Regions from separate parts of the Homo sapiens genome. Here all the other regions are linked to region 3. The links come from fine-mapping of genetic effects on gene expression. A gene starts in region 3. Each other region holds a variant in brackets. All regions are shown on one strand. Distances are between the middles of the regions.

Region 1 (6,852 bases), 160 kb after region 3:
CTCATCCCCACACAAACCTCCCCCATCTCCCAACCTCAGAGCACCTCGTACTTGATTAAGGTCCCTCCCTCTTCACATGGGATTGTTCACCAGCTGTCTCCCTGCCCCGGCACAGTGCCTGGCTCGGAGAGCACACTCGGTCATTCATTTATGAATTGTTTCTCTGGAATGTCTTCAGAATGGATTGCCACATCCAAAAAGATCAGGTTACAAAGCTGGTATAGCATATTCCCAGGAAAAAATAAAACTGGGCTATATGTCCAGAGAGTGGTTGGGGAAAGACTAGAATGTGCTTTTCAAACCTTTGTTGCTCTTTTTCATGAAATGGTCTTAGAAGGACCCACAGGCACACCTAGGTCTCCCATGCCACCTTTGCTGAAACCACCTGGGCAGCCCTATGTGGCTGGAGAGAGGGTGAGATTCTCATCTCAAAGCCCCAGATTCACTAACTCTAACCCCTAAATGACTGCTTAACCTCGTGGGGTCTTGGTTTCCTCCTACCATCTTGCATGGTGGTTGAGAGGCTTAAAGAGGAACCTAAAGCACCTGCTCAGGTGAGTACTCAGTAAATGCAACAGCCAAGAGGCAGACTGGATGGAACAGGACAGGAAGGCTGAGCCCCACACAGGGAGACCCTGCCCCATCCACCACCACCTCCTTCCTCTACCTTCCTGACACCCCCTACAGGCACCGTCAAGGGACAACCCTACAAAGCCACAAACCCACAGGAAACCAAGCCCATTGCCCTGACACAAACCTACCTCCTCTGCAAAAGGTGACCCTGCTCATTGCACCAGGCAGAGAACAAGGGAAGGGAAGTGGCCCAGCAGTGGCCCTGAGTCAGGCTGCATGGGTCTCTTGGGGTATCACTCCTGCCCCCAGACCAAAAGCAACAGCTAAACCAAGAGCTGCCACTCAAAAGAAGAGACTATTCTATGCCAGGTAGTATGCTGGGTACACCTCATCTCAATCCATCCTCAAAGCCTCCTTGTAAAACAGGTAGCAATATTATCCCCATATGACAGATAAGGAAACTGAGGCTCAAAGAGGTGAAGTCACTTTCTTAAAATCCATAGCTTGTAAATGACAGAGTCAGGACTTGAACCCAGGTCTCTCTGAATCTAAGACCAGTTCCCAGCTGCCCAAAGAACTGTGTCTGTTTTGTTTTCTATCCCTAGGACCAGCAGCATGCCTGACATCCTCTTAGAAGCCATGCAAGAACATTTGCAGGGATAAACAGCAGGCTCCTTCCTGCACAACAAGCCATGACCCTCTTAGAACAAAGCATATTGACAGAAAATTAAGTGCCACTGAATTAGCCCCAACACTTTCATAAACAGCAGTTTTGAAATACCCCAGTTCATGAAATGCTTCCAATATCAGAAAACCACCAACTTCAATTCCCCACCAAACATACCCACAAACAGAAATAATTTCTGATAAAATTGCTACTCGTAACATTCAGAACCCACAAAAAATTCTCATCAAATAGAAATGAGAGTTGTTTATCAACATTCAAGAGAACATAATGAAGCTTCCTTTAGAACATTCTGTGCACGTGAAGTCTTCTTTCTTATTGAGATTTTCACTATAAAATCTTATCAGCTGCTGAACAGGAGAGAAACTTGGAGGTGAGGATAGGCAATGGGGACCGATACCTGTGCTACAAGAAGAATTAAGCACCATAACAACACAGACACCCCTCTCCCATCAGATAATTTACTACAATTCAACAAACATGCACCAAGTAATAAGTCACCATTTATATAGCTCTCACTGTGTAGCAGGAACTGTTTCAAACTGTCCAAATTACCTAGTATTCTGCAGCCCTGTGACAAGGGTATTCTTAGTACCCCCATTTTAATGGACCAGCAGGAAGGGGTGAAGTACTTTGACCAACATGACCCAATTAGCAAGTGGGGGTGGAGGTTGTAGCAAGTGGATGTTGCAGCTAATTCAGTGACATTTAATTTTCTGTCAACGTGCTTTGTTCTCAGAGGGCCATGGCACATTGAGCAGGGAGGAGTCTAGCTGCTCAAGTCCCAAGCTTAGTATAAAAACTTTTTCTTTTTCAACTGCTACTTGCTGGCTCTTGGCCAACTCATTGCATCATTTTGGAATCTCCCCTTTATTAACGTGCAAAGACCCCTTAAGAAGTCCCAGAAAAGGCCCCAGCCATCAGGTCGTTTCTGTCTCACCTCTGCTGAAATGAGTCAAGAGACTAGCAAGTAACCACACCACCAAGAACAAGAAGGGGTAGTCAGTGACTTCCAAGCAAAGGGCAACTTCTTTTTGTGGTTTCTA[C/A]ATCCTTTCTATACTCACCACCCCGTGTGGGCTTGATATGACTAGATGCTGAACAGGGCGCTCCTTGACAGACACCTACCAAACACCTCCTGTGTGCACAAGGCTTTGTGAGATGTGCTGGTGGACGCAGTTCACATTTCTTAGGCTTCCTCTCAAGAAAGCAGTTCCAGAAAGGGTGGAGGGGAGGGTCATGCTGAGAGAGGAAGAGACCAGGGGCTCGAAGAGTAACACTAATTACAGGCCTGGAGTACATAAACCAAGATGAGCTTACTGCCAGGTTACTACCAGGTCACTATCAGGTTACCACCAGCTCAGTACAGAAGGAAGTCCTTCTCAGGTGCAGACATTTGCAGAGTCCCTCAATGTCTCAGTGGCTCCCCCATCCCTTGAGGAGCTCCTAGCCAAGCAAAGGAGACACTGTAACAAGCCCAGGTGATAACTGGGAGACCAGGGCCTATGGGTGCCAGCGTGGTGAGGGAAGGGACATCCAAAGTGGGCTGTGGAAGGGGTGAAATCAGGATATGCAGATGGAGGAGCAGGGGTCAAAGAAAAGTCAATTGGCATCAGAGAGGGAGAGCAGCAGCAACGCAAGCTCCATTCATTCATTCATTCATTCAACAGCATCCTAGTGCCTGTTCCATGCCAGACCCTGTGCTGAGCCTCAAACATGAATCTCACACAGCCCCTTCCCTCACAGAGCTCTAGCCAGCGGGGAAGAAGACTGTGAATGGCATCAGTCACACACTGTGACCATGGCTGTGACAGACAGATGTACAGGGAGGGACCCGCCCTGGCCTTGGGAGGATGGGTGATGCCCAAGGAGATGAGCCTGTGCAGACAGGAGGAGGAGGGGTCTGGGCAAGTTCAGGGAAAGCAGACGATTCAATAAGGTAAGGGACAGTGTTATGGAGTGAATGTTTATGTCCCCCCAAATTGATACATTGAAACCCTATGGTGGGTAATTAGGTCATCAGGGTGAAGCCCTCATGATGAGATTAGTGACCTTATAAGAAGGGACAGGAAACCAGGCTCGGTGGCTCACACCTGTAATCCCAGCTCTTTGGGAGGCCGGGGAAGGTGGATTGCTTGAGCTCAGTTCAAGACCAGCTTGGGCAACATAATGAGACCTCATCTCTACAAAATTAAAAAAATTAGTCAGGTGTGGTGGTGCATATTTGTAGTCCCAGCTACTTGGGAGGCTGAGGTGGGAGGATCACTTGAGCCCGGGAGCTCAAAGCTGCAATGAACAGTGATTACACCACTGCACTCCAGCCTGGGTAACAGAGCGAGACCCTGTCTCAGAAAAAAAAAAAAAAAAGAAAGAAAGAAAGAAAGAAAAGAAAAGAAAAAAAGGAGGGGGACACAAGAGAGCTTATTTCCTTTCTCTCTCCACCATGCGAGGGCACAGTAAGAAGGCAGCCTCCTGCGAACCAGGAAGAGGGGCCTCACCATGAACCAAGTTGTCTGGCACCATGATCTCAGACTTCCAGCCTCCAGAACGGTGAGAAATAAGCTTCTGTTGTTTCAGCCCCTCTGTCTATGGTATTTCTGCTATGGCAGCCAAATGGTCTGAGACAGTAGGTAACAGCAGGAGCATCAGGAGATAAGGCCACATGTGTGATGACAAGGAGTCTGTGCTTTATCCTGGGCCAGCGGGGAGCCCCTGGAGCAGTGGAGTGACAGTGTGAGTTTCGGAAACATATCACCGTTTCTAGATACAACTGCTCCTTTCCCCAAACACTTCCTATAACTCCACAGCCATCCCGAGGAAGAAGGGAGCAGATATGACCTGGAGATGCCTAGGAAGGCACAGGTCCCTCAAGGTCTGCTCACAGAGACTTGGAGGTCAGGCCAGTGCCAGCTCCCAAGGCAGCCCTTCCTCCCGCTCAGCTCAGCTCAGCTCAGCCAGTGATGGTCCTGGAGGCTCCAGGTTCCCAGGTCCCATCTTAGTAATACAAGGACTCTTGAAGGTTGAGACAGAACAAAGAGCTAAACATGATACAGGCAGATAACAATACCACAGATATCTAGACACACAGATACAGGTGCCCTGCGAAGGGGTGCTGGCTGATGTCTAAAATGGAACAGGGCCAGGTGCAGTGGCTCACGCCTGTAATTCCAGCACTTTGGGAGGCTGAGGCAGGCGCATCACCTGAGGTCAGGAGTTTGAGACCAGTCTGGCCAACATGGTGAAACTCCGTCTGTACTAAAAATACAAAAATTAGCCGGGCTTGGTGGCGGGTGCCTGTAATACCAACTACTTGGGAGGCCGAGGCAGGAGAGTCGCTTGAACCTGGGAGGCAGAGGTTACAGTGAGCCAAGATCATGCCATTGCACTCCAGCCTGGGTGACAGAGCAAGACTCTGTCTCAATAAATAAATAAATAAATAAATAAATAAATTTAAAAAAGAAAGTAAAATGGAACAGAAACTTCAGTACTCAGGGTGCTGGGACTTGGTTTTCAAACCACCTTCCATGGAGTCCTGGTGCTCCTTGAAGATGTTTGGGAGGGCCAGGAGTCAAAGGTCTGGAGCAACAGATGCTTGACTTCTTTTTTCTAGGTGTAATAATTTTAAACTGTGAAAACATCACACCAACTCAAATGGGCTGCAAACCCAATATTAACCCTGGTAGACCCCACTGCAGGGACCTGGGCTGCCAGGTGAACACTCAGCTTTGTGCAGGGCTTGGGGGACAGCCTCTCCTGTCATCTCCAGTGAAATGCACTCTGAGAATGCAAGACAAGTCACTCCCAAAAACGGAATCACAAATGCGGTATGCAAATCGTCACAACAGAATATTTTCACAACCACAACAAAGTCCATTAATACTCAAGATGCCACAGCTGTTCAGATTGCAACTGTCACCCTATACTTTTCGTTTTGAAAGTTGAATTCATCAGAGCAACCTCACTGTCCTCACTGACTGACCTTATAACTGGTAAATGTTGTCAGTTTAAAGTCATAAGATAAATGTGAGAATAAACCATCACTTCTCTGTTTTGTATATTGGAGCAGGGTGGTTTAGCTATGTAAAAATTTTATTTTTGAAAAGACTTCATTTTGCAGATGGGAAAACAAACCCAAAGAGAGGTGAGTGTATCACACTGTCCTGTGAGTATCATCCCTTCTCAATAGGCAGAAACCAGGTGCCCAGCACATAGCAGACACTCCACAAATGCCCTAGGGAAGGAAGAACCGCTCCCAGGCACCACAGCCAGGAAGGGGGCATGCCTCGAACACACGCCTCCCTACTCCCAGCCCACTGCTGGTTTTCAGACTCTGCCGCCTTCCCTCCTTTCCTAGAAATGACAATACAGCCCACACTCAGCATCACAAGGAGGGAGAGAGGGCAAGGCAAGTGCAGTATAAGAGCCAGGGTGCCTTCCCTCTTCCTCAAGAAAATACTAGAAGCCAAGCACACCCTCCACCCTGAGCGCCAGTGTGGGATGGGTGCTATATGGACGGGAAGAGCTGCTGTCTGCACTCTAGGAAACAAGGGTCCCCCGCGCTCACCTGTAGATTCAGCAAGAGAGCAGGGGTGATTGTGCCTATCGAAGGGAAGCAACCAATTGTCAACTATTTTAGAAACAGCCAAACAGAATGCATAACTACAGGATAAGTGGAGTGATGGTTAATATTGAGTGTCAACTCGATTGGACAGAAGGATAGAAAGTATTGTTCCTGAGTGTGTCTGTGAGGATCTTACCAAAGGAGATTCACATTTCAGTCAGTGGACTGGGAGAGGCAGACCTGCCCTCGGTGTGGGTGGGCACCATCTCATCAGCTGCCAGCACAGCTAGAATAAAGAAGGCAGAATTTGGAAAGAGCAGACTTGCTGAGTCTTCCGGCCTCCATCTTTCTCCCGTGCTGGATGCTTCCTCCCCTCGAACATCAGACTCCAAGTTCTTCAGCGTTTGGCCTCTTGGACTTCCACCAGTGGTTTGCCAGGGCTCTCAGGCCTTGGGCCACTGACTGAAGGCTGCACTGTCAGCTTCCTTACTTTTGAGGTTTTGGGACTCGAACTGGCTTCCTTGCTCCTCAGCTTGCAGATGGCCTAATGTGGGGCTTCACCTTGTGATCTTGTGAGTCAATTATCCCAATAAACTTCCTTTCATATATACATCTATCCTATCAGTTCTGTCCCTCTCGAGAACCCTGACTAATACAAGTGGGAACCAGCCCTGTCTGCCCTAGTTCTTAAACTGGAGAGTGTATTGGAATTGCTCCGAGGGCTCATTAAAAGCCAGACCCCAGGGGCCGGGCACGGTGGCTCACGCCTGTAATCCCAGCACTTTGGGAGGCCGAGGTGGGCGGATCATGAGGTCAGGAGATCGAGACCATCCTGGCTAACACAGTGAAACCCCATCTCTACTAAAAAATACAAAAAATTAGCCGGGCGTGGTGGCAGACGCCTGTAGTCCCAGCTACTTGGGAGGCTGAGGCAGGAGAATGGCGTGAACCTGGGAGGCGGAGCTTGCAGTGAGCTGAGATCACGCCACTGCACTCCAGCCTGAGCGACAGAGGAAGACTCCGTCTCAAAAAAACA
Region 2 (7,563 bases), 140 kb after region 3:
AGCTCCCACGGCGCTCAACGGACTCCTGACCTTCATGAACAGACCACGGGGCCGGCAGCACCTGCATCAGCGTCTGTCTGGCTTCCTCTTCAAAACCCAACAGACTCCATCTGGGCCCCAGAAAACTGCCCTGATGCTACAGGTAGGAAGAAAAATCTTTTAAAAGCACGTTAAAAGGCAGGCCTCTAAAATCAGCTTCCTAGACCATGGCGGGAAGAAGAAAACAGGCAAGAAATTTCCGCATCCCAGCTTCAAGCTCCTCCACTTGAGCAAGACAGTAATAATGTCTGCCACCGGAAGACACCCAGTGCAACACCTGAAGCAGTCAGCGTTGAGTGTGCCCAGGTGACACACATTTACAACCCCACCAGTGGGTCCCTGTCATCCACCAAAAGCAAAACACCTGGTGAAGGCTGCTGGGGATGGCAGCTCTTTCTCCCCAAGCTTTGGCTTCTATGTGACCTTGTGCAGCGCCCCCGCCATACCTTCCCCAGTCTCCCACTGTCTCCAGGCTGTGGCCCAAGTACTCTGGTCTGGCATTCAAGCTCCTGAGCTTGTCTCCTGCTGCCCTCCCAACTGTGACACGGCCATAGCACCCTACATGCCAAAAATGAAAACAATGGCCACCATGTCTATGTTCCATACAGGACCTCATTTAATCCTCTCCACAACCCTATGAAGTTACTTCTGTAATTATTCCCACTTTCCCTACGGAAAAACTAAGGCTTAAGAAGTGTCTGCAACTTTCTCAAGATCTCAAGCCCAGCAATAGCAGGGCCAAGATGAAAGATGAGATCAGACTCCCATGTTCTTCCTCACTGCACCACAAAATACTGCCTCCAAATCCCCAAATGCTCAGCGCCCTCTCTGAGGTGCCTCCATGCCTCTGCCCAAGCTGTTCTCTCTGCCCAGAAGGCCCTCTGCTTGCTTACCCACCATTCTCACCACCCCAGACCTGGCCAACTCTAGCCTCAATGTCACCTCCCCTAAGTCTTCCTAGAGCTTCCCATGCCCCACCTAGTTGCACTCACAGCACTGTGACCTTCACAGCCGCATTTAAGCTCAGAGTCCTCCAGTCCTCCTGGCTGGAACCACCTGTTCTCCTGTCTGCTGTTCAAGTTCTTTGAAACTTAGAGTTGAAGGTGGATCTCAATAGCCATTGAAGCTGGACGGCAAAGTGGCTAAGGGTATGGAGTGAGACCTTAGGCCAGTGAGTCCTTCCACTTGTCTAGATCTGTTTCTTTACCTGTAAAATGAGATTATCCAATAACCATACCAAACTCATAGTGTTGTTATGAGAATTAAACAAGACAATATAAGTAAAAGCAGTGAGCACAGTGCCAGGTACATGACATTGACCTTCCCTGAACATTAGCTGCTGTTGTTATGATGACTTTTACTTGGTAACCACTACGGGGCTCGCCACTATGCCTGATACACTGTTACCACTTAATAAAGGTCTCAGGGTTGGAAAGGAGAAAGGAAGCAGGCGAAGGAGGAAGGAAGGGAGGGAAGAAGAAAGAGACAGGGGAAGGAAGAAGGGAGAGAGGAAGGAAGAGAGGGAGGGTGGGAAAAGAGGAGACAGAGAGAGAGTGAGAGAGAGCAGGGAGGGAGGAAGTCAAATCAACTCGGAATAAAACTATCTAACCAGCAAACGCTGCTCTAAATGGGAGTAAAAAGGTGAAATTTCTTCCACTTGAGGCCATGACCTCCCACTGGGACTCTGATCAAGAGTCCTCACTCACTCATCCAAGCCTTCCTTTCTTCCTCTTTGGTGGAGGCTGCATTACCTAAGCCTGTAGCCCCAGCTCCTAGAACCGCCCTCACCCAGCCCCACCACCAACTGGCTGGGGAGCTGCCTGCTGCTCTGCATCCTATGATCAGAGATAAGGCCTGGCATTGGAAGAGTTTGTGTCCGCACGAATAAAAGGCAGGCAGTCTCTAAGAGAAAACCCGACCTCTGATCCTGATGCCGGGGAATATTTATGTGACCCTTTAACCCCTATATTTAAACACTAGTTCTTTGATCCCAATACTCAACACTTCACTCTTGCAGCAGATCTTTGCAATATTCTCACAGAAGTGGGCATCCTGGCCGAGTGTGGTGCCTCATGCCTGTAATCCCAGCACTTTGGGAGGCTGAGGTGGTTGGATCACCTGAGGTCAGGAGTTCGAGACCAGCCTGGCCAACATGGCGAAACTCTGTCTCTACTAAAAATACAAATATATATATATATATATATACATATATATATATAGCTGGGCATGGTGGTGGGCTCCTATAGTGCCAGGTACTCAGGAGGCTGAGGCAGGAGAATCACTTGAACCCAGGAGGCGGAGGTTGCAGTGAGCCAAGATCACGCCATTGCACTTCACCCTGGGCAACAAGAGTGAGACTCCGTCTCAAAAAAACAAAAAGAAGTGGGCATCCCTTAGCCCCAATTCTAGGAAACCCACATCACCTTCCTGTTAACCTGAGCTCAGTCTGTTTTTCTGTGACCAGCCCCACCCATGCACATCCCCCTCCCCTACCTGCCTGAAGACTACACAGGCAGATTCACACTTGCCAGCCAAGGCTTCAAAATCAAGCTC[T/C]ACCAGACTCTCCTGGCATCCAGCTCACCAGAGGCCAACACCTGCTCACCATTCGACAGCACCCTGATTCCTACTCAGAGGCCCCAACGTCCCTGCCTCTCAGCCTCAGCTCCAGGGGTCTTCCCCGAGCCTGGCCTCCTTCACACAGGCCTTGGTCACAGGCAGATCTGGGTGAGAAGAGGAGCCACGCTGAGCATCAGGAGCCCTGGGATTTGAAGCCCCTTCTTCTCTCCACAGCCTTGTGACCCTGGCCCTCTCTAGGCTTCAATTTCATGTTTTGAAAAATGAGCACTGGAGCCAACGGTGTTTCCCAAACCTCAGTCATCAGTTGCCGCCGCTGTGACTTCTGCATAAAATGCATGGTTCTTCTTTTCTTAAAATTAGCTTTCCGGAGGTGTAATTTGCGCTGTAAGAGGGTGCACCTCAGACAGCCCTGACAATCTGGAGAGAGAACGTTTTGTGGAAGGCCATCATGTTCCCGTGTGCCCCTCGGCACCTTACCTTTATGTGCTTAGTACTTTTCTTTAACACTACTGACTTTTGAAAAACCTGTACACTACTTCAGCCTTATTCTAAGCAAAAATATCCCCCAAATCATAGGCTTCAGGTGCTATATTTTATAACTATAAGATACAGTTATATTTTCCCTAATGCACACTAAAGTATTATTAAAATAAATTATGTTTGGCTACTGTCACCTAAAATCTCACATCGCAACACTGGTGAGCACTCTCACTGAGAAATGCGGAACCAGCTACCCGCTCCCTGAGGCCCCTTTTGGCTGGGAAAGTCTGGATCCTGCCTCTTACTTGTCACAGAGTCTGCCCAGGTCTTGTATGCGGCAGATGTTTACTAAATACTGGCTGCTGAACCAGAGTGAGAGTTCAAGGCCATCTCTGCAGCCCCCAGACCATGCCTGGCTGACTGCATCCTGCTGCCTATGGTGAGAAGGCACAGGCTTGTGTCCTGCAGAGCTGATAAACCCTGCACTCAGGGAGACACTGACCCTCGCAGGAGGGAAGACAGAGCGGAGCTGGACACAGGCGGAGGCTGAAGAAACAAGCAAATCACTGGACGTGCAGAGAGGCTGCACTGGGGAGAGTTGCTCCTATTTTAGGCCATTGAACTACTTTAATAATTCGGTCATTTTCACATCAAAACCATTGCAAGGAAAACCCCCTAGGATGTTAAATCTGCATGCCCAGAAAGGATTTACCACAAAGAGCGTGAAGAGAGTGGTCCCCTTCCAAGTCCCCATTTCACAACAAGCTAAAAACCGAACAGAAGCCTTTAGTTCCCTGAGTGATTGGACAAGGAATTTGTCAGATGTCTATAGTCCTTTAAAAAAAAAAAAAAGCAGGGGGGATATAAAAGGAAGAGGATGCATTTCAGCCTTGAAAAAGGCAATACCGAAAAGGCAGACACCAAGAAACTTAGCAAGGCTTCCAAGAGCCCAACACGCACAGCCCACTGCACGCAGGGACTGTGCCCAACTCTGCAGCCCTGGCAAATGGAATTCTTTTCAATCCGGCCCGCTGAACCCCTCTTTCAGTTTACTTACTACCCAGCCCACTCCTAACTCCCCACCCCCAGCCATCATGAACTACAGACAGCACCCTAAACATCCTGTTCTGCCTTTGTATCCAGTGGACAGTCCTTCCTTCCTCCTCCACTTGGGAAGCTCCTATTCATTCCTCGAAGGCCTATTCATCCATCGCCTCCCACAGGAAGCCCCCTGAGACCCTCTCACTCCACAAACCAACACAGAGCACGCAGGGAAAGGTGCGGGGTAGGGTGGGGGGTCTTAGCTGGGGTGGAGCCTGAGCCTCAGAGGCTTCCTTCCTTGTCCTGTGGATAAAGGAATTTAAAGCTCATTCCCGAGCAGTGGGAAGACAGTCGGGAGATGCCAGCCCAGCCTGCTGGGAAGATACTTCTGGTGACAGTGTTGGGGTGTGCTGAAATTGGATCTGTGACAATGCAGTTGACTCTCCGCTATCAAAAGGCCTACACATGAATGCCTGGCTGGAGCTTCCCTCCGCAGTGACCCTGGTGTGCCCACGAGGAGGACGAATGCTCCTCCTAAGGAGGAAACAACATTCCCTCCTCTGCGCTCAACGCCTTTTAATACCAGCAACCACCACTCAACCACCACCACCGCGAATGTTTACCCAGCCCTTATCCTGCGTCAGCTCTGCTCCAAGCACTTTATATTTAACCCTCAAGAGAACCCTAAAACATAGGTATTCTAGAGATTTAAAAAGTATGGAAAGGCTAAAACACTTGTCCAAAAGTGCACAGCTACTAAGCGGGACTCAAATCCAGACAGTTTGGTTCCAGGGTGGGTTATGGTGGTTGGAAAAATGACAGCAAACTCCTAACTGGCTCTGAAAACTTCTAAACGCCCAGCGCTGCTACCTGATTTCCCCTAAAGAACTCACGGAGGATTTACGCGCATATTCAGCTGCAGGGACATGCACGGATGTGCTGTTTACAACAAGGAAAATAAGCAGCCAACTAAATATTTGCTAAATATTCACCAACAACTGTATGTCCCATGGCACATTTATAGAACGGGATATTATAGTGTCCTTTAAGCTGAAGCTCTATCATCTCAAATTTTGCTCTGAAGGCCTGTGTATCCTGATTCCCAAGTGTGCTTGCTAACATGCAGCCTTCCTGGGTCCTGCCCTAGACCTCATGAATGGCACTCTCTAGAGGTGGGGCCTGGCAATCTTAAGTTTGCACATACATTTTTCTGTGCGGTAATGTGTGAGAACCGCTGCTGGGGATGAATATCTACTGCCACGGAAAGGGTCAGCTCTGTGACTTCTGTCCGTGGTGGGTTCCTCAGTGCGTAGAACAGTGCCCAGCACAATAATGGATCTTCAAGAAATATTTGGTGATCCAGAAAACCCATCCATCAACAAACTATTCTGAAATAATCTGTTGGCATTTCTAAATACCTGACCCATCTGTGTGTTTCTTGGGAGCAGAGACCGGGAACATCTTCTCACCGTACCACGCCCGGCACAGAGCCAGCCAGCCACGCGCAAAGCCAGCCCTCGGAAGTGGCCCGCCAACACAGGAACAAGCGAATGCCACTGTATCACACTGATCCTAAGTTAACGTTTCTGAAATCAAGATTCATCTCACATTCAATGCCCCATCATCATTTAATGAATAGCACTTTTTCCCATTTCTTTAGTGGTACAAAAATAATGATGCATGTCCCAATTGACAGCAGCTTAGATTTAATAAAATACGGTACCTAACAGAGTCCAGAATTCTGATTTAAAAGTTTAAATTAGCTGCCAACACAGCTAACAGATTGTTGTGCATTTCCTTTCTTATAATTTGCAGAAATAAATCCAGAGCCATCTGTTCTGAGCGTTCGGCTTCAGCCCCCAGTCATCCTGGTGACCCAGGGCTTAGCTACTGAGATGCAACTCAAAGATCTGATGCATGTGGAAGGCTTTCATCTGTCTTCACCCAGGAAATGTCTGACAGCATCCGCTGAGATGTGGGAGCTAAAATATCTCCTTCATTGAAGGCTGTAGGATGTACAAGAAAGGTCAGTTCTGGGCTAGACCTTGGTTACATCCCAGCTCCACTGTCCCCAGATGTCTGGTCTTGGGAATCTCATGGCCACACCTGGCACATGGACATGGTCTGCCCATGATAGGTGTTGGTCACGTTACAATTGTTCAGTAGACCCACACCCCATTGGCCAACAGCCACAGCCCTGAATTTTCTATAACAAGTTCCATGGCTAGTGGTTTGAATGCGTCCCTCAAAGTTCACTGTTAATCCCCAATGCACCAGTGTAAAGAGGGGGGACCTTTAAGGGGTGATTGGGTCATGAGGGCTCTAACCTCATGAATGGATTAATGCCATTATTGCCGGAGTGGATTCCTGATAAAAAGCTGAGTTCAGCCCCCTTCTCAGCTCTCTCTCTGGAACTCTCTTGCCCTGCTGCCTTCTGCCATGAGATGTGGCAAGAAGGCCCTTGCCAGATGCAGGTCCCTCCACCATGGACTTCCCAGCCTCCAGAACTGTAAGAAACGCATTTATTTTCTTTATAAACTACCCAGGTGGTGATATTGTGTTATAGCAACACAAAATGGACTAAGACGAGTGCACCTGGGCAGGTTACTCCCTCTGCAAAAAGGCGCACGGGATGGGAAGCTGGCGCACAACACAGGGTTGTCCCAAGAACCAAATGAGATTAAATTGAAAGCTCTCTGAAAAGCAGCAATTTCTATGGTAATTCAGGTAATTTGTGATATTTAGGAAGCTACAAATTATAGATATAAGAATCTTCAAATTTTCAAATCAAACTTCAGCGTACACTTTCCGTAACACCTTTTTTGACTAAGAATCCATCATTTTCCTAACTTTTTCATAAGCCACTGGCACAGACCATCACAACTCAGAACCGGGATCTCCGAGCTACAATCCCACCAGAATCCCAGCTCAGCCATCTTCCCCAGCGTAGCCCTGGACATGCTACCTAACCCCTGCTTTCTCCTGTTTAAACTGGTGCCAGTTGTCTGTGGTTTCACATTCACTGAGCAGGTTAGATATGCCTCTCCGTAAACACCAGCCATGAAGCAGCACACCCAGTAGGGTGTGAGTGAGGGACCGTAGAGTCGAGAATTCTGATGAAAAAACTTAAATTAGATGCCAACACAGCTAACAGATTGTTGTCTATTTCCTTTCCTTGGGCTCTGTTAGAACCAAGGGTGTCTTGCTTTGCATCAGCAGCACTAACTCCTGATGCAACAGCTTTCTTTCTATGGATCACTTCATTCTCCCAAAGAACACAGCTTCTACAACTTCAGAAGAGTTATCTGGGCCACATTTCCAGGGCTATGTGCTATGAGGTAGGGCTCAAGCTGTCGGCCAGCGCCGTCCCTCTCCCTGTGTGAGACGCTGGTCAAGTTACTCCTGCTCTCTCTACCTCCTCTCCTG
Region 3 (5,000 bases):
GTTAAGTCACCCAGGTCTGCAAATAATGCCATTTCATTATAATGTTGATGAGAAAAAAAAAGATTCCCAGCCAGGGCCACTGTCTATGTGGAGTTTGCCCATTCTCCCCATGTCTGTGTGGGCTTTCTCGGGGTACCCTGGTCTCCTCCTGCAGCTGTAACACGTCACCACAAGCTTGGCGGCCAGAAGTCGGAATCAGTCTTCCTGAGCTAGTCGAGCTGTCAGTGGAGCCAAGCCCTCTCCGAGGCTGAAGGGGAAATCCAATTCCTGGTCTTCTCCAGGTCTAGAGCTGCATTCCTGGGCTCCTGGCCCTGCCTTCATCTTTGGAGCCAGCTGCATGCAATCCCACACTGGCGGCCACACTGCCATCCCTAGACTCAACCCTCTCTGTCTCCCTCTCGCAAGGATACTTGTGATTGGTCTTAGAGACCAGCCGGCGAATCTGGGTCCATATCCCCATGTCACCATCCTTGACATGTCGACATAGTCCCAGCCTGCGTGAGTGTGCGCGTGGGTGTGAGTGTCCTGTTCAGGCCTTGCACCCTGAGCTGCCGGGAGAGGCCTCAGCCACCTGTGACCCTGAACTGGAACAATTGGGTAAATAATCATCTTACTTGTGTTTTTTTGAGTCTTTCTTAAATCTAAATTTGTTTGAGCCTTTCACATTTATTTCAATGTTTAACATTAGAAGTGTTTGGGGTCTTTATCTCAAAGTTTGGTGATGTTTTTGTGACCTGAAATATGCTGTAGGAACTTAACTCTTATTTGTATCAATTAGCCTATGGTCAAATTAGTTTTGTGGCCAGGTGTGGTGGCTCACGTCTATAATCCCAACACTTTGGGAGGCCAAGGCAGGCAGATCGCTTGAGGTCAGACGTTCGAGACCTGCATGGCCAACATGGTGAAACACTGTCTCTACTAAAAATACAAAAACTAGCTAGGCGTGGTGATGGGCGCCTATAGTCCCAGCTACTCGGGAGGCTGAGGCAGGAGAATCGCTTAAACCCAGGAGGTGGGGTTTGCAGTGAGCCAAGATTATGTCACTTCACTCCAGCCTGGGTGACAGAGTAAGACTCCATCTCAAAACAAAGCAAAATAAAAAACAAAAACAAATTGGTTTTGTTGTAGGTTGCTTCACTTAGTCACAGTTTCCAAGGGCCTATAGACAACGTTCAGTGAGGACTTACTGTGCTTTGTCATGGCAACCCAGGCAAACTAACATAACTTTGTATATGACTCTCGGAGGGTAAGTGCGTTGCAGAATGAATGAAAGAATGGGCAATCACATAGAGTAACAGAAGAATTTTTCTGATTTGTGAATTTCTTCATGCATAAAACTTTACCAAAAGGAAGAAAAGTAAATCACATGTGCATACACGTTCAATGGTCTGCCTTTACTAAATCAAAGGCAAGTACAAGAAAATGGGGAAGTCCCGCAAAAATCCAAGGCACGTGGCTGCTGGGATATGAGTAACGTGTCAGAATCAATCCCCGCTGTCACTGCATTGTGCTTCCATGCTGGGTTTCGCTGATCTATATACAAGGCCCAACCTCGTTCTGCCAGTCTGGGTGTCAAGACATCGTCAGGAAAGAAGATGGGCTTTAGAGAAAGACCTGGATTCAAACGCCCCACCTTGAGGCCAGGTCAGCTCCATCAGGCAAACAGTGCCCACAGCAGGAAGTTCTACAGAGAGAAACGAATGCGGAGAACCTATTTCAAAGATGACAGCAGAGTCCAAAGGCCAGACAGAGACAGGCAGCCTGGATTAGCAACTGCCGGAAGCCACTTCTGCCCCTGGGGCTGGACAGCCACACAGGGAAGAGACGATGTTACCAGGGCAGGGCAGAGCAGCCAGGCCACCCAGCGGGAGCTGGGACCGCAGAGGAAGCCGAGAGCACATCTGAGTTACAGCCACAGTGGGAGATGTCACTGTGGGAACAAGAGTGACTTTATTTTAAACGCTAATCCAGCAGGTGACTCTTGACTAACCCTGAGTCCACGAATGCCTCCAAGATGTGGAGTTGATATAGTTCTGTTTACGTAGAAACACCTATTCATTGTGAGTTTCCTCCAAAACAACCCTTGTCATTGCAGAAACCATAGGCTGTGATGCCTGTAGCCACCTATGCAAGCCTTCCAGAGCACACATGCTTTTTCCCCAGGATATAAGCCCTGGGTTGGGGATGGAAGGTTTGCTGTGTGGACATCTACTTGTCTGGCGGCTGCCTAAAACCATGCTTCTGTCTGCCAGTTCCCCTAAAAAAATCACCCCAAACCGACCAACTGGATTTGTCTGCCTCTGTCCTTGGTTTCTCAGTTCCTTCTACACTTCCCTGTCACTTTGAACATAGGGCCCTTTCATGGAACAGTCACCCAGAGAAGAAGAGAGGGAGAACACCTGGCTTCTCCCTGCCTCCCTCCGTTTCAGGGCCTCCCATTGGCTGCACCTAAATGGAAGCCTTTGAGCAGAGGAGCCCGGGCAGCCTCATCTGCAGGTACAGAGCAGAAGAAGGAGGGCGGGAGGAGCAGAAGGCAAGTGACTGCGTGGGCAGGTTACGTGTCTTTGGTGAGCCAGTTTCCCCAGCTGTGTGGTGTGATTCAACACACCATGGTGACACACTCTGATGGCCCCGCGGTTTGTGAAATACACACAGAGAGATCAAAATGGCATCGCTACCTGCTTCTCAGCCCGGACTCCGATGTCACGTACTTGTCCTCTGCTGCTGACAGCTTCTGCTCGGAGGACTCCAGCTGCCTCCTGAGCGCACCCATATCCATGTCTGGGCGGCCAGCTGCTTCTTCCTGAAGACATTCCCGCTCCTCAGCACTATCTTCCATGTCCTGGAATATCCAGGATGTGTCAATCTTCACATCAACGTTCATTATGTCGAACCCCTCACTGCTGGGGGCTCTGATGACGTAGCTGAAACTCTCCTCAGTCCGTCCCTTGGCTGTTGGCTCCATCTCAGAAATATTTCATGGGGCAAGACTTAATAATAAAATTAAGTGAGTTTGCAACATTGACTTCCCGGAGATTTCAAGGTGGTGTTTGTGACTTCAGATTGTTCAGGAAAATATCCTTTGAGAAGGGCAAGAACAGGTGGATTATTCATGAGTGGGTGACTTGGGTTTCATCTGCACAAGCGTCATACAATATGAATGAAAGCCTCTCGTTTTACAAGTCAGCATGCCAGAACTCACGCAAAGCAAGAAAAAGTTGCAGAAAAATCACTTGAGATGAAATGCCTAGTGATGAACACAGAGAGGAAAAATAAGACCTCCAGGTAAGGCCATCAGATGTTACAGACTCCCAGTAGTCAATGAAGCTTATCTTTTTACCACATAATGAATAAGGTTCCACACCTCCTCTTTGAGCACAGCACATATTTTTCAAGGACCTAGAGTTTGCTAGGGGAAGAGGATGGGAAATTTATGCTGCCCTGGGTGCCGTCTGCATCCAGGGCAGGGGCCTCTCATGCCTTACCTAGTCCAATTCTCCCGGTGACCTTATGAGGTGGGCGTTAACATGACCATTATACAGATGGTCAGACGGAGGCTCTGGAAGGTGAAGGAGCTTATCCGGGTCCCACAGGTGGGATGGGAAGTAGCAGAATCAGGATTCAAATATGGATCTGACTCCCAAACTGGAGTGTGTGTGTTCTGACACAGGAGATACAGTAATAGGTGAGCAACAAGACCCCAGAAAAGGAGCAAACGCATCCTTTGGGCACCCTGAGGAGGGGGAGCGAGCATGAGGCTGAAGAGATCGTAGGAGGAATGGGGAATTACAGCAGAGAGAGGTGGGGAGGAGACTCCCCCAGGTGGGGAGCATCCTCAGGCCACAGACCCGCACAGACAGGCAGGACAAGTGAAGGGAACAGGAGGACCAGACAAAGCTGGCCCCGTGGACACACAGAAGGAGGAAGTGAGGAGTGAGGACAGAGGAGGCTGGGTGCCATCTTCTCTCAGGCACTCAAGGACTCCGGCGTTTCTGTGGGCCCCTGGGAGAAGGGAGGTGCCTGGTCAAATGTCATTTTGAGGATCGAGCACTCTGGGGTTTGCAGGAGCGAGATGGAGGCAGCTGCACCTGTAGGAGGAGGCAGCGCCACAGGCCAGGCCTGGTGCAAAGAGGCGTCAGGACCAAGACAAATAGAAAATGAGAGGCTTCCGTCTCCCTGTTAAAAATAAGAGACGTCCTCCCTCCCTTTTCTTAAAGCATCTACTTTAGAAAATGTGTAAGTTCTTTCTTTGTCTCTTTGAAATATGTGTAAATCCTTTTTACAGCGAAATAAGCCTTTTCCAGCATTACGACTCAGGAATGTTTCCCTGAAGGACCTGGGCACCGCCTCTTTGAGATGTAAATTCGAAGGAAAACAGCGCCCCTAGTGTTCAGTGGGAGGAAGGAGCCGAATTGGGCAGGCGCCTGGCTCCGAGATGCAAAACCTGTCACAGTAAGTGACAGAAGGGTGGAACCCAGGTGCAGGAGAAGCTTTTTTTTCCTTTGTATAAAACAAATTAATGAACACAGAGGGTTGCCCTCGTTGTCAGGTGAGTTTAGGATGAACCATGTGAAACAATGACGCTATCGAGTCCTTTTCCGCAGGGATGAGAGAGGATGTGTGCATGGATTGTGCCTGCCTGGCCATATAAAAGGGTGAAACTTCTTACTGTCTTTGCAATCTCTCAGTGGGTTACCTGTAATGCACCTCATATCTTGGTTTAATGCTTATTCAATAATAAACCTTTTTTAAATTTTCTTTGTGATGAGGTTTTCTGTGCTGGGAGAAGCTTTTGTCTTTAATCATATTTTCCCAACAGTGGCCAATGTCTTGTTGGCCACAAGGGGTTTCCGTGGACCTGGGGCAGTTGGAGGCGGGGGATGGGGGTGCAGTGGAGCCACTCAGATCCCAGGCGCTGGGGCCAGGCTGCCTGGGTTCCAGGCCTGTCTCCATCGCTTCTCAGATGTGATTTTGGACAAATTACTTAACTTCTCAAAAAA
Region 4 (8,049 bases), 90 kb after region 3:
TTTCTTATCCTGTAATGTTATTGCTTTTGGAATCAGAGTTACACTGGCTTCATAAGTTAGTTAAAATGTGTTCCTAATTCTCTATTTTCTGGAAGACTTTGGCTAGAATTAGTTTTACTTCTTTCTTAAACACTTGAAAGAATTTACTTGTGAAGCCATCTAGGCCTGGGCCTTTCTTCATAGGAAAATTATTCATTACAGATTTAATTTATTTAGGAGCTTTAGGACTACTTAGATTTTCTATTTGTTTCATGTCAGTTTTGGTACATTGTGCTTATTCAAGGAATATGTTCATTTTATCGAGGTTTCAAGTTTATTGGTATATGCTGTTTGCTGTGGTTTTATTGACTGTAGGAGCTGTGGTATTTCCCCCTTTACATTTTTGATATTAGTAATTTATTGTCTCTGTTTTGCTTTATCAATATTGCTAAATGTTTGTCAATTTATCAGTTTTAATTAACTCTTGAATTTGTTGATTTTCTTTATTGATTTTATTTCACTGCTTCTTGCTCTTTAAAATTTCCTTCCTTCTACTCTCTGGAGTTTAATTTGCTGTTCTTTTTCTTTCTTCTTGAGATAGAAGTTTAGATGCTTGATTTTCAGCATTTCTTCTTTTTGTCTAAAATATGTTTTGCTCTAAGGACTAATTACAACCCACAAATTTTGAAATGCGGTCTACAATGATAAAAGTATGTCATGTCCACAGTATTCTGCAGTTGTGGAATAGAGTGCTCTGTCAGGTAAGTTCACGTTGGTTAATTGTGTTGGTGAAATCATGTCTTTATTCATTCTTTGTCTGTGTGTTCTACTGTTTGCTGAGAGAAGCGTGTTCGTCCCCAACCGTAACTGTGGATTTGTCTGCTTCTCCTTTTAGTGTTGATAATTTTTTTCTTTTATACATTTTGAGGTTTTGTTATTGAATGCATTCCCACTGAATTGACCCTTTATTATTAAGAACTGTCCTTTTGTGTCTTTAGTATTACTTCTTGCCTTAGAGCCTTTGACATTAATACAGCCAGACCAGCTTTGCTTTTAGGAAGTGCTTGCACAGTGTATCTTTCCCCATCCTCTTATGCTCCATGTCACCATGTCCTCATAATTAAGATGTCTCTCTTGTAAATATCACTGTTACTCTTTGATCCAGTCTGAAAATCTCAGCTTACTTTACTTCTTAGCCTCCTGCCCCACACAGCTTCAAAGTGTGACAAACGCCCTGAGGGGCAGACTGGTCATGTGTTTGTGGCGGGCCCCCTCCCTTTGTCTCCTACGTCCAGTGAGGGCATGGGAGCTGTCATTCTGCCTTTCCAGCTGGGCTCGCCAGCCTCCCCCTTCACTCCAGGACTCAGGAGGATCTCCTGTGCAGCAAGCTGGCCTAGGTGGGGCTCCTCTGGTTTCCATTGTTTCATGCCCACTCTGAGATGGCAGAAAAGTCCTACTCATCTCTCTGAGGACATCCAATCCTCAGCCCGCACCCAGAATCCACAAATGCCCCAAGGGAAGAAAGCAGCTGGCAATTAGGCCGCCCAGGCAGGGCTCTTTCCCCTTCCCTTTGGAATTTTAGTTCATCCACACTCCACAGCTTCCACAGATCTCCAGTATCTTTCAAAACAGGACTATTTGCAATTTATATGTTTCCCTTGCTGTTGCAGCCAGTTGGCCGGCCTGCCCTGACCTGTGGCATCTTACCTGGAGATGGAAGTCTGCTCATGGTTGTTGAAGTAAATGAATCAATAAATGCCCGACACTTAGATACGCTATCACGAGGCATTTGCAACAACCCTCGCTAGTCTCCATTAAGCTCCTTTGACAAATGGGGAACTGTTCTTTGAGCGGATTACCTGCAGCCCCAAAGCCTCCTTACCACACCTAAGACGGGAGGGAGGTTGCTGGGGCCCCAGTGCTTTGAACAATGCCTGGAGCACAGCAGGTCCTCGGAGCTCCGCATTTCCCCCATGCGTGCAGGGAGGGAAGGCCGCGTGCCCGCGGGCGGGGGAGGGGGCGGCACGTACCAGCCTGCGGATGTCGCGCTCGCACTCGCGCTTGATGCGGTGCACCTCGTCTTGGTGCGCCTGGTAGGCGGCACGCAGGTCGGCTGCCTTGGTCTTGTCAGCCTGCATGCAGTTACTGAGCGCCTCCTCTGCCTGCTTGCGCGCTGCCTTGAGCTCCAGGATCTCCTGCTGCAGCCGCAGGCGCTCTCCATCGAAGGCCCTGCGCGCCTCCTCGCGCGCCTCGGTCAGCAGCGCCGTCTTGACCTTGTCGGCCGCGCCGTCGCGCAGCACGTTCAGCGTGGCCTGCAGCCGCTGCAGCTCGCCCTCCTTGATCTTGGCGGTGCGCGCCGCCTCCTGCTCGTGCTGCCGGATGAGCCCCTCGCGCAGCGCCTGCAGCTCCTTGGTCTTCTCCTCATGCAGCTTGGCCTTGAGCTCCGAAATGTAGGCCGTGTGCCGTCGCTGCTCCTGCTCGCGCTCCAGCTTCGCCTCCTGCAGCCGCTCGCGCAGTTTGCCCACCTGCAGCCAGAGCGGCGAGAGAGCCGGTCAGGGTCAGGGTCAGGGTCAGGGTCAGGGTCAGGGTCACAGCTGGGGGAGCTGGCCACAGCCTCCCCACGCCCAAGACACCCACCTGGGCCCACGTTCCCATGGATTCCCCCTTCGGCAGTGCCCTGCAGGCCTGACCCTCCTGCCAGCCCCACTTAGAATCTCTCCTGCTAGTTCCCTGAGACTTTCCCTGGGGGTGGAAACCCCCTGAGGATGCTGGAGAGGCATTCAAGCCTTTGACATCTCTTCCAGGTTGTAAATTGAGACGACTGCTCAATCACAAAACACACCCTGCAGAAATCATCACCAAGACCCAAAAGATTGTAAACCAGAAATATATTTCCAGGGCCCCATGCGCGGACTGTGGAGTTGGAAAAGACAGACCAGGCTTCTAAGTCCTGGGGGGCAGTGAGCAGGGGGCACCATTCTTGTTGAGTGGGGTCCCTAGCTGGGCTGGGGGCTCCAATGCATCACCCACATTGCCACATGAACCCCTCACGGTCTTGGGAAGGAAGTAGCGTGCTCCCTCTCTTTCTCCCTCTCTCCTCTCTCTCTCTCTCTCTTCCTCTCTCTCTCCTCTGTTTTATCATGAGGCAGCCAAAGATCAGAGACAGTCTGGTGAGCTGCCCAGGGTGAGGGATGAGGACCCTGTGCTACCAGGCAACCCACCCCGCCTTGAGCCTATTCATTTTATCAGCAAACAATTCAAAACATTACTTATAAAACGTCCCAAGGGAGTGTGTTCTTAAAACACTTCAAAATGCTTTCTTTAACCTTTTTGTTTCAAATATCACTCAACACACATTCCACAGGAACGCCTGACAAGCCCTTATTTCCTGAATTCTGCCCGTCTCTGAAGACCTGAAATGAATTGCCTCTGGTGGACAAGCTGCTTCCAGGGAAAATGGCAATGTTTTTCCCCAGACCACACTGTTGATAGCATAGTCACATGTTAAAATTAATTTTAGGTGAGAAGTTTTACAATGGCACCTGAGTATTGATAAATCCTTACTTAAAACAGCAGGTAAAAAAGCAAATAAAACCAACCCAGGCAAACACACAAGATCAACATCTCCTTTCACCAGATACTCACAATCATAGGAATGAAGCCAGGCGACCAGTCCATGTTCTGTCCACCTTACCCTGGGGGCAGCAATCAGCATCTTTTCCTAGTGGATTTAGCAGCAGGAAGCCAGAACTTTAAGTATTTAACAGAATTGTCCCAGTTATGGACAAAATGGTTTTG[A/T]CTGTTCTCCCTCCTGCGAGGCAACAGTCAAGTCCCTGGTTAATGCCGACAGCCATCTGGGGCCAGCAGGGTCAGATCCAATGAGATCCTAATCTGCTTTGATGAGCTGCGTTTCCCCAGGCAAATTTCTCTGCCTCTATGGTGGCTGATGTTGTGGGTCGACTTGGCTGGGCCACAATGCCCAGTCGTTTGGTCAAACACCAGTCCAGATGTGGCTGTGAAGGTACATTTTATAAGAGATTAACATTTACATCAGTAGACTCTGGGTGAAGCACGGTGCCTTCCACAATGTAGGTGGGCCTCATCCAATCAGTCGAAGGCTTTAAGAGAAGACCGAGGTCCCCTGCGGAAGAAGGAACTCTGCCTCCCGGCTGCACTGGGACTCGAAGCTGCAAGATCAACCCTTGCCTGAATCTCCAGCCTGCTGGTCTGCCCTACACATTTCAGATTTGCCAGCCCCACAACCGCATAAGCCGATTCCTTAAAACTAACGAATAACCTCTCACTCTGTGGGGGGTGTGTGTGTGTGTGTCACAACCTATTGGTTCTGTTTCTTTGAAGAACCCTGACTACACAACCTTCCAGAGCTCCAGTTTCCTCTACTAGGAAACAGGGATGGCAACAGCTGCCCCTCAAAGGCCCGTTGAGAGGAGGAAGATGAGGTGACTGTGGGTGGGTGAATGGAAGTCTGTTGTTATCGTGGTTCTGACTTTCTGCATCAGGGGTGGGCAGCCTCGTGTGAGAGACACAGGTAGAAAGGGGGTGAGGAACATGGAAGGGTGGGCAGAGGCCTGTGCAGGGCAGCCCGGGGCGTCTAGGGGCTGCTTCCTGGGAGGGGCAGAGGTGCTGCTGAGGCTGGTGATCCAGGTGTGTAGGGCAGGGATGGTGACAGAGAGGCAGGGGCCTGGGGACAGGGCCCTGCTGGGTCCCTCCAGCTCTGCCCAAAGCTGCTGAGAGCCAAGCCCAGGTGACATGACCTATGCCACAGAAGCAGCAGAGTGAGGCTGGGGTGACCTCTGATGGGCACAGAGCACTCCCTCCCACCACCACTCCATCCAGCTGAGCAGGCCAAAAAAAGCCGCCCAGCACTTTACCTCCAGGTGCCTCCAAGCTACCCCAAGTGTAGAGGCACCTACACCAGCCGCTCCTCAGCACTTGGACTCTAAATGCAGCCACGGCACAAAGGCCAAGAGAGGGAGCATGCCCTGGGGGTGTGGGGGCTGGCGTGGAGAAATTATCTGAACCACCAGCACCACCCTCACTTGCCACTCCCACTCAGAGAGTGAGTCAGATTCACCCCTTTCCATCCTCATCCTCATCCAATCCAGCAGCACTGGCTCTCCATGTCCAGGCCTGGCCACTTCCCCACTTCCCCCTTGCCCAAGCCACCTGCAGCAGCCCTCCCCGCCACACCCTCCATGCTCAAAGCCCTCTAAATCTCATGGGTACCAGTTCACTACTCTGAAACCATCATACATGTATAGTGTTGAACAAAGAAAGTGGATGGCAGAGGGGGAAGCCAGGTTTCCCACTTGGAGTAAGAGGTTACAGACAAGCAAGAGGAGGCTGAAGGGAGCCATGCGGCAGTGGATGCGTCTTGGGACATCTGTAAGAACTCATGTTTGACTTTGTATGGATATAGATGTCATATATGGAAATATTTACAGGTATGCGTACATACGCAGGTCAGTATACACATATATATTCCTTGTTCTGGCAGCTGAGAGGGCCTAGAAACAATGACACCGCAGCAGTGATGGGCACGCCTGGTGCCTGGATCTTTGTTTCTAATGCCATTCTCCAATAAAAGGAACCAGGACCCCTTAGAGAAACTGCTGGGTCTAGCGCTGGGGTAGGAAATATACAAGATGTGCCTGGGGCACCTTTTTTTTTTTTTTTTTTTTTTTTTTGAGTCGGAGTCTCGCTCTGTCCCCCAGGCTGGAGTGCAGTGGCACGATCTTGGCTCACTGCAGGCTCTGCCTTCCAGGTTCACGCCATTCTCCTGCCTCAGCTTCCAGAGTAGCTGGGACTACAGGCACCCGCCACTGCGCCCGGCTAATTTTTTTATATTTTTAGTAGAGACAGAGTTTCACTGTGTTAGCCAGGATGGTCTCGATCTCCTGACCTCATTATCCGCCCGCCTTGGCCTCCCAAAGTGCTGAGATTACAGGCATGAGCCACTGCGGAGCCTGGGGCATCTTATAATGCCAGAAAGTAAGGAAATGCTCCACAAAACCCCCACAAAACTGCCCCTGTGAAGCCTTGGGTTCTGCTTGTCCCTGCACTATTTTCTAAAACCTCTGATGGAATGTGCCCAGGGCTGCTGTATTGCTGGTTTCCTGTGAGGCTCTGTACCCATGCGACTTGAGGACAGGGTCTGTCTCTGAGTTACTTCCAAACACTTCTCACTCAGCCCAGGCATGGAGCATGCATGCCAGGGGTTTGCAGATGAATAGACAGACACGTTTACCACCCTCCTTCATCCTACAGTGTTCAACAGGGATGCTTTGCTAAAATGCCAGCACTTTAAATGGGACATTGACAGTGATTGTGAGATCATATCAAAGTAACACTTCAATGCAATTGTAAAGTTTGCATTTATGTTTTTTGTACCAGTCAATAAGCACATTACTGAATTCTCAGAGAATTGAAATTCTCCCAGCAGCCAGATGGGTAAAGTCAACCTGAAGCGGCCACATGGATGGCTGGATTGAGAAAATAATCAGCCAGCGTGCATCCAAGTGGAAATTGCCACACGTCCCAGAGGCAGGGAGGCAGCCTGGTAACAGGGAGGCCCAGCCTGGGGTCCGCATGGGCCTGGCTTTCAATCCTGCAATACCACCTACTGTGCTGGCCTCGTGTGTGGGGCTAAACTGTGTCCCCCTGAAAATCATATGTTGAAGTCCTAACCCCCATGACCTCAGGATGTGATTCCATTTGGAGATAGATCCTAATGAGGTCATTAGGGTGGGCCCTAATCCGATTTGCCTGGTGTCTTTGTAAGAACAGAAAATACAGACATGGACAAACACAGAGGAGAAAGCCATGTGAAGACACAGGGAGAAGGCGGCCGTCTGCAAGCCAAGGAGAGAGGCTTCAGAAGGAGCCAATCCTGACACCTGGATCTGTGGCTGCCAGCCTCCAGGACTGTGAGACAGCAATCGTCTGTTGCGTAAGCCGCCCTATCTGTGGGACTTGGTTACTGCAGCCCTGGCAAGCTAACACACCTGGGCAAGTCCCCGCCCTCTCCAGCCCTTGGCTTGCTCACCTGTAACACGGGGGAAGCCACACCTGATCTCTCAGGTCACTGCCAGGGTCATGACACCCTCTAAAGCACCTGGTGCTATCTGCACAGTAGGCATGTAAAGGTCACCCTGATGGTCATGTGAGCGTATGACAGGCAGCACCCAGGCCCTGTGTGTGACTGTCTCATTCATTCCTCAAACAACCCAGGAGGCAGACACCTTAGAGGTCCCCATCTACAGATGGGAAAACTGAGGCAGGGGGTTACACAGCTTATAAGACCTCAGGCAGGGGTGGTGGTGGAGAGGGGATTTGAGCCCAGGCAGTGTGATATGAGTGAGCAGCTTTCCCTGTCACCACAGCTGCTGTAGCTATGTCCAGATACAAGCTGCCAGCCCTTACACCCCCAGCCAGTCAGCCCCAGCCCCAGCCCCGGAGGTGACCTGGCCTGTTGACCTGGCTAAAGGGTGAACAGGTCAGCATCACCAGCATCCATGTCTAAAAGAGGCTGGATGCACTCGGCCTGGAATCTTGAACACCTAGGGATGGAGACAGGTGCATCTGTCCCCAAGTTCCAGAAGCCCAGTCCCCTGGTCCAGAACTCAGCCTCTGCTCTGTGTGGCCATCCTGAGCTGGGGTTGCAGCCAGATCCCAGGCCCCAGCCCCGTCCCCACCTGGAAGCTGGATCTGGCCCAGCACTCCATTGGCGACCTGAGTCCCAGCTCAACAAGACAGGGACGCCTGCTGCAATTCCCCAAGCAGCCTCCACCCGTCACTCCAGGTACTACAGCAGGAGCCAGAGGGCACCTTCGGGGCTTCAGATAGACCTTCAACTGCTCGAGCCACCCAGGAGCAAGCCTGCATCTCCATGCTCTTTCTGTGCTCAGCCTGGCTGGCAGCTCCTCTCTGGGCTCACAGAACCCTGGGCTTGCTCTACCCTCAAGCCCACCCAAGTCAGAAGCAGGCCACCAAATAGGACTGCAGCTGTGCCTGGGCACCAGATGTTGATGGGGCTTTTTATTGCATCCA

The links. PIP is the estimated chance that this variant, and not a neighbour inherited with it, causes the effect.
Region 1: its variant is fine-mapped to the expression of C4orf50 in whole blood (TOPMed, PIP above 0.99).
Region 2: its variant is fine-mapped to the expression of C4orf50 in whole blood (TOPMed, PIP 0.99).
Region 4: its variant is fine-mapped to the expression of C4orf50 in whole blood (TOPMed, PIP above 0.99).

The regions. Positions count from the first base shown.
Region 1 is chr4:6,178,805-6,185,656 of GRCh38, forward strand. The region is part of intron 1 of JAKMIP1 (janus kinase and microtubule interacting protein 1); the gene reads right to left. Among named protein-coding and RNA genes, the nearest start is that of JAKMIP1, 18 kb to the right of the region's middle. RefSeq lists an enhancer at 1,975-2,264. The variant C/A (reference allele first, on the strand shown) is at 2,305.
Region 2 is chr4:6,150,567-6,158,129 of GRCh38, forward strand. All of the region lies in intron 1 of JAKMIP1 (janus kinase and microtubule interacting protein 1), which reads right to left. Among named protein-coding and RNA genes, the nearest start is that of JAKMIP1, 46 kb to the right of the region's middle. RefSeq lists an enhancer at 2,673-2,842. The variant T/C (reference allele first, on the strand shown) is at 2,593.
Region 3 is chr4:6,015,467-6,020,466 of GRCh38, forward strand. C4orf50 (chromosome 4 open reading frame 50) reads right to left here and starts at 2,965. Exons shown (of 12, transcript NM_001364689.3): 1 at 2,679-2,965. The coding sequence starts at 2,965.
Region 4 is chr4:6,103,464-6,111,512 of GRCh38, forward strand. It overlaps JAKMIP1 (janus kinase and microtubule interacting protein 1), which reads right to left. Exons shown (of 21, transcript NM_001099433.2): 3 at 2,010-2,504. Among named protein-coding and RNA genes, the nearest start is that of C4orf50, 89 kb to the left of the region's middle. RefSeq lists an enhancer at 2,225-2,757. The variant A/T (reference allele first, on the strand shown) is at 3,778.